Homo sapiens: one gene and its partners. The protein of the gene in region 1 purifies or fractionates together with the protein of each later gene. This does not show direct contact. Each region holds a gene or a part of one and is shown in the gene's direction. Other genes may lie near its edges.

Evidence for each region.
Region 2: the proteins of PLAAT1 (region 1) and ALKBH7 purify together in Homo sapiens (affinity purification with mass spectrometry; one large-scale study listed by BioGRID and IntAct). This does not show direct contact.
Region 3: the proteins of PLAAT1 (region 1) and C19orf38 purify together in Homo sapiens (affinity purification with mass spectrometry; one large-scale study listed by BioGRID and IntAct). This does not show direct contact.

What each region holds. Positions count from the first base shown.
Region 1 is NC_000003.12:193,268,174-193,271,388, forward strand, and holds the end of PLAAT1 (phospholipase A and acyltransferase 1), read left to right. Parts: intron 1-2,430; coding exon 2,431-2,532; 3' UTR 2,533-2,682; downstream 2,683-3,215. UniProt on the Homo sapiens protein: Exhibits both phospholipase A1/2 and acyltransferase activities. Shows phospholipase A1 (PLA1) and A2 (PLA2) activity, catalyzing the calcium-independent release of fatty acids from the sn-1 or sn-2 position of glycerophospholipids.
Region 2 is NC_000019.10:6,371,173-6,375,593, forward strand, and holds ALKBH7 (alpha-ketoglutarate-dependent dioxygenase alkB homolog 7, mitochondrial precursor), read left to right. Parts: upstream 1-1,621; 5' UTR 1,622-1,648; coding exon 1,649-1,852; intron 1,853-2,632; exon of another isoform or gene 2,633-2,719; coding exon of another isoform or gene 2,720-2,845; intron 2,846-3,030; coding exon 3,031-3,204; intron 3,205-3,292; coding exon 3,293-3,417; intron 3,418-3,638; coding exon 3,639-3,801; 3' UTR 3,802-4,078; downstream 4,079-4,421. Other genes in the region: PSPN (persephin preproprotein), read right to left, coding at 4,122-4,421.
Region 3 is NC_000019.10:10,858,367-10,862,014, forward strand, and holds part of C19orf38 (protein HIDE1 precursor), read left to right. Parts: intron 1-1,548; coding exon 1,549-1,592; intron 1,593-3,648.

The sequences.
Region 1 (3,215 bases):
ACTCTCATAGACCAAATTATGAAAATATCTCTATCTTTGTCAAAGATGGCCCACACTCTTCAGTAGGCCTGGACAAGGCAACACAGGAACACATCCTGATGGTGCTTCGGTGCATATGACTGCAGCCTTACGAGGCCTTAGGAAAGAGCGTTTTGATAAACCTGCCACACGTCTGTGTCCCCGCTATACTGCTGTCTAGACACAGCCACTCCAGGTTCAGCTAATGTTTCATTAGGCCAGGTACAGATCCCCAGAACGAGGCCTTTATTATGGCCCATGGACAGAAAGCCCTCTAAAGGATAAAGAATGCAGAGTTGGATTTGGTGACCTTATAATCCAAAGTAAGCCGTGAAGTAAAAGTTCTTGTTCATGTTGGTTCACCAAGAACATCCTGAGATGTTGTAATCTTGCACATCACATCCCATTACTCCTAACTCCAGTGGGTTGTCCCAATTACATGAGATTCATTATCTAGAATGAGACTTGAAATAAATGAACATTTGGAATTGGGGAAGCTGTCTTAAAGTGGCACTGCTTAAAGTGGCTTTATGATCATGATATCTGGCCTTTGTCATCTCTAGGGATTTTGGTTTGGGATCAGGTTGCCCATCCCCCAACCAGGCCTCTTAAATTTGTCAGCTTTCATTAACATCTTGTGTTTCTAGTGGCTGAAAGATACCTAGTCAGTTAGGTCTGCATCTAGCTGGGGCCACACCATCTATAGGATCCTGCCATTTTCCAAGGGCCGTACCCTGCTACCATTTGACACCTCTGTTTAAAGACACTGATTGCACCTTCATTTTTTTTTTATTGACTACCCCATTTCTCTCTATTAGACCTTCTTGGGATCTCACTATCTGCTGGAATTGTACTAGGGTTGGGCTTGATCCCTGTCTAATTAGTGACTCTTCCTCTTCTTTGGGATTTTATCTTATATCCTGCATCTCCCTGCCTCTTCTCCCCCGCTCCCCCAATATGGCATATGGGTGGCTCTGTGCTACAGTGAATTCTGATTATCTCTTAGGAAATAGTTTAGGTAAGGATTAAAATATAAATAAAATAGATAAGAAATCAAATAAAATCAAAATTATAAAGTAAAACAGGATTTTTCAGGGTTAGTGCCAAGTTGTTTGCCCTTACCATTCTCCCTGGCATCTGGGGGTTGGAGCAGAGACAGTGGGCCACAATTACAGGCCTAGTCTCTGCCCACCACAGGATGGTGTAGTGGAATGAACACATGCTGCAAACACATGGAGCCAAGACTTCTGTTGTGTCCCTCTTTCCTGGCCCTGGCCCTTGTGCCTGTTCCTAACAGGGAAGCTGCAGTTAGGGAGGTAGCATTGTGTTGCAGTAATACGTGGGTGGCAGGTTCCACGGTGGAAGGCTGTGGTTAGACAGAGGGCATGCTCAAATATGACCTGGGTTAGGCTTTCCAGCTCTTAGACTGGTTCCCCAGAGTCATTTGGGAAAAATATTTTGCTTTATTTGAAAGACCTGATTCTTCAATCCCAGAGAGAACAAATATGTTTTCAGAGTACTTGATAATTCTGAAGTGTCCGAATGTGACCTTTGGGTCATCAAATTGCACTCAAACCCATTTGAATGGAAGGCAATATTAGTTGAGTGCCAAGAATACCATGAATATTCATTAGTTCTCTCATCATCATGATGATTAATACCCTTAAAGCTATAAATGTCTGAATTCCTTTATGGACAGTTGATCTTGAGAGTGGTTTGTCTACATGAGAAATTAATTTTTGACATGATAGTTAACATCAGTATTGGCTTTTTTTGAAATTTGTTTATCAGAAAAGAAATTGTGTCTACCAAATAAGAGCTTATGTGTATTTAGCTCAGATGACATCCCTGAATTATTTGCTATTTGACATCCCTGAAACACACACACACACACACACACACACACACACACACTCTTACACGATACTTACTTTGGTGTAGACCCAACCAATCCAAAGTGTTTATTTAAGGGGCAGGAGCTGCATAGGAGAAGAACGTGTGTTTCAGAAGACTCAGCCTATCTTTAAACATCTTCGTGGAATGATCTCAGGCAAACTACTTATGATATCCCAAGTTTTGCAAAACAAGAGTGGTATATTAACCTCTTTCACCAGTGTACTATTATGATGAATGGGAACTGTGTTCATAATTAGTTTATAAACTGTCAGAGTGCTTTAAAAATATGAGGAATATATACCCATGTGTACGTATCTACATCTTTGACATAATTATACAAATTATAAATTTATTTCTTCATCTTTATGCAGAATTTTAATTTTGCATTGTACTTTAGATGTATCCATTGTACATTAAAACAGGTGTTCAGTTTAGGAAACAGGCTAAAGCTTCATTTAGGACACAGATGTCTTTAGAATATGATGTGTTTTTTGTTTACTTCTTGTTTCCTTATAGGCCAACCGAGCGATAAGTACCGTTGAGTTTGTGACAGCTGCTGTTGGTGTCTTCTCATTCCTGGGCTTGTTTCCAAAAGGACAAAGAGCAAAATACTATTAACAATTTACCAAAGAGATATTGATATTGAAGGAATTTGGGAGGAGGAAAAGAAACCTGGGGTGAATACTTATTTTCAGTGCATCATTACTGTTCCAGATTCCTATGATGGATGGCAGACTCTTTAATAAATTGCTTACTGATATTATCTTATCATTGAGCCAATGAAATTTTTTTCCCCTGCTAGCATAGATGTACTGTGGCAGCTTGAACGGAGAAGCAGTAGTCTTTTGAGTGAGCCAGCAGAAGATCTTAACAAAATCTCATCACATTTTATTTCTACTATAAATATTATTTTCCTTTTCCCCAAGGGTGGCCATTTTGCCAGAGGCATGAAAGACTATTTATATATGGTTTTGAAAGAAATTTTAAGAACCCCAGATTGTTAAGAGTTGACATCCAAATTCATGTTTCTTTTCTTGTTGGAAAAGAAACTGGGAAATTTAGCATTTTGGTTAGGCAGTTTGAGGGACTCTAATTTACAAGCCTTTTGGGGAATGCACCCTCATCTTCTTCCTGCCTGTGTAGATGAGGGTGGATGGGAAGAGGAGAGGCTGTTTGCTCCAGGGTTTCAGTTCCGGTGATTTGTGTGGAATCTACTTGCTTGTCAGGAGGACATGACAAGTAAGAGTGGGCTGTTATTTCTACAGTGTTACATATTATTCCCTTTGGATTTTGAAGTGTTT
Region 2 (4,421 bases), on another chromosome or scaffold:
GGGCGTGGTGGCAGGCGCCTGTAGTCCCAGCTACTCGGGAGGCTGAGGCAGGAGAATGGTGTGAACCCGGGAGGCAGAGCTTGCAGTGAGCCAAGATCCCGCCACTGCACTTCAGCCTGGGTGACAGAGCGAGACTGTGTGTCAAAAAAAAAAAAACCCAAAAACCAAAAAAATAAAAAACAAAAATTAGTTGGGCGTGGTGGCAGCTTCCCGTAATCCCAGCTACTCGGGAGGCTGAGGCAGGAGAATCGCTTGAACCCGGAAGGCAGAGGTTGCAGTGAGCCAAGACCGCACCATTGCACTCCAGCCTGAGTGACAAGAGCGAAATTCGGTCTCAAAAACAAACAAAACAAAAAAGCTGGGCATGATGGTTCGTTGCCTGTAATCCCAGCTACTCGGGAGGCTGAGGCATGAGAATCACTTAAACCCCAGAGGCAGCGGTTGCAAATCTTCAGGGCCTGAGATCGTGCCACTGCGCTCCAGGTTGGGCGACAGAGTGAGACTCTGTCTCAAAAATAAACAAATAAAAATAAATATAAACAAAAGTAGAGAAAACAGGGTAATGAGACCCCACGTACTTATCACACCAATTCAACAATTAATTCACGGTCAAAGATGATTCTTCCCTACCCGCCCCCTCCCTGCCCCCACAGCCTGGATTTATGTGGAAGCAAATCCCAGAGATCTTTTTTCTGTAAATATTTTTTTTTCAGTTTGCGTTTGTAAAAAACGATGACTCTTTTTTTTTTTTTTGAGACAATGTTTTGCTGTGTCGCCCAGGCTGGAGTGCAGTGGCGGGATCTCTGTTCACTGCAACCTCCGCCTCCTGGGTTCAAGCAATTCTCCTGCCTCAGCCTCCTGAGTCGCTGGGATTACAGGCACGCGCGCCACCAAGCTCGGCTCATTTTTTGTATTTTCAGTAGAGACGGGTTTTCACCATGCTGGCCAGGCTGGTCTCGAACTCCTGACCTCAGGTGATCCACCCGCCTCGGCCTCCCGAAGTGCTGGGATTACAGGCGTGAGCCACCACGCCCGGCCGAGGAATCAAAAAGACAACCATAATGCCATTTTCAAACCTAAAGTAATAGTGATACGGAGACGGGGAAATGAATGATACCTCGCTCTGACCTTTGACCATAAGCCCTAACTCTGGATAGCTGGCCCCACCACACACATAATCGTGGCCTTGACGTCAGTCCCCTGACCCCGGACCCTTATCTCGGCCTGACTGTACTCTGCCCTTAACCTCTAGCCCTAGTCGACTCCATAACCGTGGCCTTGGCCCCAGTCCCCCTGACTTCCGGACTTCAGACCAGATACTGCCCATATCCCCTTATGAAGTCTTGGCCAGGCAACCCCTAGGGTGTACGTTTTCTAATGATTAAAGAGGCGGTGCTAAGCTGCAGACGGACTTGCGACTCAGCCACTGGTGTAAGTCAGGCGGGAGGTGGCGCCCAATAAGCTCAAGAGAGGAGGCGGGTTCTGGAAAAAGGCCAATAGCCTGTGAAGGCGAGTCTAGCAGCAACCAATAGCTATGAGCGAGAGGCGGGACTCTGAGGGAAGTCAATCGCTGCCGCAGGTACCGCCAATGGCTTTTGGCGGGGGCGTTCCCCAACCCTGCCCTCTCTCATGACCCCGCTCCGGGATTATGGCCGGGACTGGGCTGCTGGCGCTGCGGACGCTGCCAGGGCCCAGCTGGGTGCGAGGCTCGGGCCCTTCCGTGCTGAGCCGCCTGCAGGACGCGGCCGTGGTGCGGCCTGGCTTCCTGAGCACGGCAGAGGAGGAGACGCTGAGCCGAGAACTGGAGCCCGAGCTGCGCCGCCGCCGCTACGAATACGATCACTGGGACGCGGTGAGACCGGCAGCGCCGGGGGCGAGGGACGGGGGCTCGTCGGGGGCGCGGCCTGGGGACGTGGAGCATCAGATGGGGCGGGGACACGCTGGGGGCGGTACCTAGAGCGGGGATTTGGAGCGGGGACAGAGGAGACGAGCGCCGGGACCGGGCAGGGCCACACTGGGGGCGGTTACAGTACCGTTTAGCGTGGGGGCGGGGCTACGGTGCTGGGGTTGTGGGGCCAGGGGGGTCGGGCGCAGGGATGGGGCGGGGCCACGCTGGGGCGGGGACAAAGGAGACAGCGCAGGGATGGGGCGGGGGCACTCTGGGGGCGGGACAGGAGGCGAGCGTAGGGACGGGGCGTGGCCACGCTGGGGGCGGGGACAGTGGGGACCAGTGCTGGGATGGGGCGTGGCCACGCTTGGGGGCGGTTACAGCGCAGTCGAGCGTGGGGGTGGGGCCAGGGAGTCGGGTGTAGGGTTGGGGTGCGATTACGCTGCTAGCAGTTACAGTGCAGAAGAACGTGGCGGCTGGGATTGGGGCGTGGTCAGGTCGTCGAGCGCATGGATGGGGCGGGGCCAAGCTTGGGGCGGGGTCCGTGGAGTCAAGCGCCGGGATGGGTTGGGGCCATGCTGTGGGGGGGACGGGGAAGTCGAGGTTTAGAGAGGGCAGAACCACGCTGGGGGCGGAGATAGGGGAGACACATGCTGGGATGGGGCAGGGCCTTTTTGGGGTCGGTAGCTATTGCAGGGATTTGGGAGCTGGGCTATGGTGGGGGCTGGGCTGAAACTCTGGCTGTGGGAGGGGCGGGACCTGGGGGATGAGGACCTTGGGGTCAGGGAGAGCACTTTTGCGACCTGGGACCAAGGTTAGGGGCGGAAACGGATGTGGAGCCAGATGATGTTGAGAGACAGAGACAGGACACTTGGGTGGGGTCAAGTTGTAGGGAGATTCAGCCAATTGAATGCTGGGGCCGGGCCAGCATTGGGGACCTGGAATTGTAGCCTCAGGGTGAGTACTAAGGACTGAGGTCACACCTAGGTAGGGCCATAGTTGAGGGGCTAGGGGAGTTTGAGTTGAGGGCAGGGTCAAGAGTCACATAGGGAAACCAGCCCCTTGCCGTTTTCTGCCCCTCCTTGCCTCAGTTTCCTTGTTCCCTCTGGGAGCTCCCAGGCTTAACCGAGCTCTCTGTGCAGGCCATCCACGGCTTCCGAGAGACAGAGAAGTCGCGCTGGTCAGAAGCCAGCCGGGCCATCCTGCAGCGCGTGCAGGCGGCCGCCTTTGGCCCCGGCCAGACCCTGCTCTCCTCCGTGCACGTGCTGGACCTGGAAGCCCGCGGCTACATCAAGCCCCACGTGGACAGCATCAAGGTGGGCAGAGGACGGTGCCTTGGCACTCCCAGCCAGGGGGTAGGCAGGCCCGGTTAGATCCTGACCCATCCCCACGCCTCTTTTGCAGTTCTGCGGGGCCACCATCGCCGGCCTGTCTCTCCTGTCTCCCAGCGTTATGCGGCTGGTGCACACCCAGGAGCCGGGGGAGTGGCTGGAACTCTTGCTGGAGCCGGGCTCCCTCTACATCCTTAGGTACCTCCATCCAGGCAGCACCCACCCCTCCAAGAATGTGCCATCCGCCCACCCTGTGCCCTGGGTACTTTCCCTCAATCCAGCCCTCCCCGAAGACGCCTTTACCCCAGGGTCTGTGTGGGAGGCAGCAGGGGGCTGGAATCCAGGAGGCTGGAATCCAGGTCTGCCTGGAGCAGGGGCTGCCCTCCTTGCACCCAGTCACAGCCTGTTTCTTCCTGCAGGGGCTCAGCCCGTTATGACTTCTCCCATGAGATCCTTCGGGATGAAGAGTCCTTCTTTGGGGAACGCCGGATTCCCCGGGGCCGGCGCATCTCCGTGATCTGCCGCTCCCTCCCTGAGGGCATGGGGCCAGGGGAGTCTGGACAGCCGCCCCCAGCCTGCTGACCCCCAGCTTTCTACAGACACCAGATTTGTGAATAAAGTTGGGGAATGGACAGCCTAACTGGGACATTGCAGTGGCTGCTTGCTGGGGCCGGGATTTGCAGGGGAACCCAGGATGGCACTGGCCCATAGGGAGCTCCAGGTGTGGCTGGCTGGACACATGGTCAAAGTCACAAGGCCGGGAGAGTGGTGTCCTTTATTGCACTCACTGCTGGTCGCCCCAGCCCACTCCCCTCCTCGTTGTCTCTGCATCCAGGTCTCCAATAAATAAGTCAGCCGAGCTCCCCCAGCACTGCAGCTTCTGGGTGCCAGGCCGGGCACCCTCAGCCACCACAGCCGCAGGCAGCCGCCGAGAGCTGGGGCAGCCGCTGCCAGCGGTGGCGGTCATCGAGGAAGGCCACGTCGGTGTAGCGAGTGGGCCGGCAGCAGGGCCCGCCGTGGGCTCGGCCCTGGCCCTGCAGCCGGGCCAGCGCCAGGCCATGCTGGGTGCGGGCACCACGGGGGCAGCTGCCGGCGCAGTAGCGGAAGATGACCTTCTCCTCTGAGGCGTAGCCCAGGCCTAGCTCTGCCACGGACAGGGTCAGGCTCCACAGCTGGCATGGACCAGACAGGGCTCGGCGCAG
Region 3 (3,648 bases), on another chromosome or scaffold:
CAGAGGGTGGTTTGGGGAAAGAAGGACACTTCCCTGGCAGGGTGGGCACTCCATGCCCCCCACAAACAGCGCCTCCTGGTGGGCATGCTGCGTAATAGGAACAGGAGCCATTTATTAAGTGCCTCCTGTGTGCTGGAGGACTGAGCTGGGACTCTCTGAAGCTGGAGCTCCTTATCCTTATGGCAGCCCTGGAAACAGGCACCATGAATAGCCCTATTTTACAGAAGAGAGGACTGAGGCTCAGCACTCAGTCACAGAGTGAGCAGTTTGCCCAGGGAGAGGCCCTTCCCCACACCCCTTTACCTCCAGCTGCCAGAAAACGGTCACAATCACTCTAGACACCCACAGTCAGTTTCTAAAGAATGCCCCTGGGGTTGTGCAGTGCCCAATTGCACTGTAGGTGATGGCCCAGGTTCCTGGGCACCAGGATGTCCTAACTGGCCCTGGCCTCAGTTTCTCTCCTCCGAGAGTGGGGAGACATCCTGCTGCCTGGAGATGAAAACCTGCTCTGGGGATTGAATCCCAGCTTCACCTGGCTGTGGGCCTCCTAACCAGGAGAATATATATATGTTTTTTTTTTTTTTTTTGAGATGGAGTTTCACTCTTGTTGCCCAGGCTGGAGTGCAATGGCCTGATCTCTGGCTCACCGCAACCTCTGCCTCCTGCGTTCAAGCAGTTCTCCTGCCTCAGCCTCCTGAGCAGCTGGGATTACAGGCATGTGCCACCACACCCGGCTAATTTTGTATTTTTAGTAGAGACGGGATTTCTCCATGTTGGTCCGGGTGGTCTTGAACTCCCAACCTCAGGTGATCCGCCCGCCTGTGCCTCCCAAAGTGCTGGGATTACAGGCATCAGCCACCGTGCCTGGCTTTTATATATGTGTGTGTGTGTGTGTGTGTGTGTGTGTGTGTGTATGTGTGTGTGTATATGTGTGTGTGTGTATGTATGTGTGTGTGTGTATGTATGTGTGTGTGTGTGTGTGTATATATATATATATATATATATATATATATATATATTTTTTTTTTTTTTTTTAGACGGAGTCTCACTCTGTCGCCCAGGCTGGAGTACAGTGGCGCAATCTCGGCTCACTGCAACCTCCGCCTCCTGGGTTCAAGCGATTCTCCTGCCTCAGACTCCTGAGTAGCTGGGACTACAGGCACATGCCACCACACCTGGCTAATTTTTGTATTTTTTAGTAGAGACGGGGTTTCACTGTGTTGTCCAGTCTGGTCTTGAACTCCTGACCTCAAGTGATCCACCTGCCTCAGCCTCCCAAAGTGCTGGGATTACAGGCGTGAGCCACTGCGCCTGGCCCAAGAGAATTTCCATGTTTTTTTCTTCCCCCGGCCAAGGGGCTGTCCCACAGTGTGACAGCTCCAGAAATCAGGATGTTACTGCTCTTCTGTGGGGAAGACCCATGGGTCAGTGGGTGGGGAGCAAAGGCTACATTTTGGGTGTGGTTTGGGGCCAGGGCTTTCCCGATCAAGCCTCCTGACTCAAGGGGCAACCCTGATCCCTGTCACTTTCTCCTGAATTCCTTTGCAGAGATCGAGAATCCTGCTGGGCCCAGATTAACTTCGACAGCACAGGTCTGTGCCTCCACACTCCTGACTCCAGTGGGGAAAGGATTACACCTCCAAATGCCATCAGGCCTCATCACACACCAATCAAATTTCTTCTGTGACTGCTTGTTCCCTTTAGGGTCAAAACACACCCTCGCCACCTCTTCCCCTGGGTTCTCACCTTCTCTCCTTTGACTTAACCTAAAGGTCACCTCCTCTGGGAAGCCTTCCCTGACTCCCTAGACAGGGTCTGTGCCTGCTACTTACAGGACCCCAGGTCCGACCATTCTTCTTACCCCTCGGTAGAAATACAATTAGGCGGCCAGGCGCGGTGACTCACAACTGTCATCCCAGCACTTTAGGAGGCTGAGGCAGGCAGATCACGAGGTCAGGAATTCGAGATCAGCCTGGCCAACATAGTGAAACCCCGTCTCTACTAAAAATACAAAAAAATTAGCAGGGTGTGGTGGCGGACACCTGTAATCCCAGCTACTTGGGAGGCTGAGGCAAGGAGAATCATGTGAACCTGGGAGGCGGAGGTTGCAGTCAGCTGAGATTGCGCCACTGCACTCTAGCCTGGGCAACAGAGCCAGACTCCATCTCAAAAAAAAAAAAAAAAAAAAAAAAAGGCCAGGCGTGGTGGCTCACGCCTGTAATCCCAGCACTTTGGGAGGCCGAGGTGGGCGGATCACGAGGTCAGGAGATCGAGACCATCCTGGCTAAAACAGTGAAACCCCATCTCTACTAAAAATACAAAAAATTAGGTGGGCGTGGTGGCGGGTGCCTGTAGTCCCAGCTGCTCAGGAGGCTGAGGCAGGAGAATGGCGTGAACCCAGGAGGCAGAGCTTGCAGTGAGCCCAGATCGCGCCACTGTACTCCAGCCTGGGCGACAGAGCGAGACTCCATCTCAAAAAAAAAAAAAAAAAGAAAGGGCCAGGCACGGTGGCTCACGCCTGTAATCCCAGCACTTTGGGAGGCCAAGGCAGGTGGATCACGAGGTCAGGAGATCGAGACCATCCTGGCCAACATGGTGAAACCCTGTCTCTACTGAAAATACAAAAATTAGCTGGGCATGGTGGCGTGTTCCTGTAGTCCCAGCTACTTGGGAGGCTGAGACAGGAGAATCACTTGAACCCAGGAGGCAGAGGTTGCAGTGAGCCAAGATTGCGCCACTGCACTCCAGCCTGGTGACAGAGTGAGACTCCATCTCAAAAAAGGAAGAAAGAAACAAAAATGAAACAATTAAGTGATCATTGGGTGCTTGCATATTTCATACTCATTTCCTCTGCTGAACGGCCAGCTCCATGGGGAAAGGACCATGTCTATCTCCGGGACTCCAGGGCCACACTTGCCTTCCAGAACATGCCATTCTGCCAGCTTCCCCAAGGGGGCGAAAGGCAGCCAGTCTGTCATGCAGGATATTCTCTTGAAGGCACCCCAAGCAGAGAAATGTATTCTCTGTACTTCATTCCTGGTCCAACACACACACTTATTGAGCACTTACTATGTGCTAAGATCTGAGAGGGTCCTTTCGTAACCAAGACAGATGTGCTGTCTGTCCACAAGCCCATTCTCCAATGGGAAACAGCCCGTGATGGCACCAGACTGTGTCTGGGACAAGGCAGGTGGTCCCCTGAGGAAGTGATGTTTTTCTTTTTTTTTTTGAGATGGAGTCTCATTGTGTCGCCCAGGTTGGAGTGCAGTGGCACGATCTCAGCTTACTGCAACCTCTGCCTCCCGGGTTCAAGTGATTCTCCTGCCCCAGCCTCCCGAGTAGCTGGGATTACAGGCACGTGCCACCATGCCCGGCTAATTTTTGTATTTTTAGTAGAGGTAGGGTTTCACCATGTTGGCCTGGCTGGTCTCGAACTCATGACCTCAGGTGATCCACCCACCTCAGCCTCCCAAAGTGCTGAGATTACAGGCAATTACAGGCGTGAGCCACCGCCCTTTTGTTGTTGTTGTTTTTTGTTTGTTTTTGTTTTGAGGCGGAGTCTCACTCTGTCGCCCAGGCTGGAGTGCGGTGACGCGATCTGGGCTCACTGCAAGCTCTGCCTCCTGGGTTCAAGCCATTCTCCTGCCT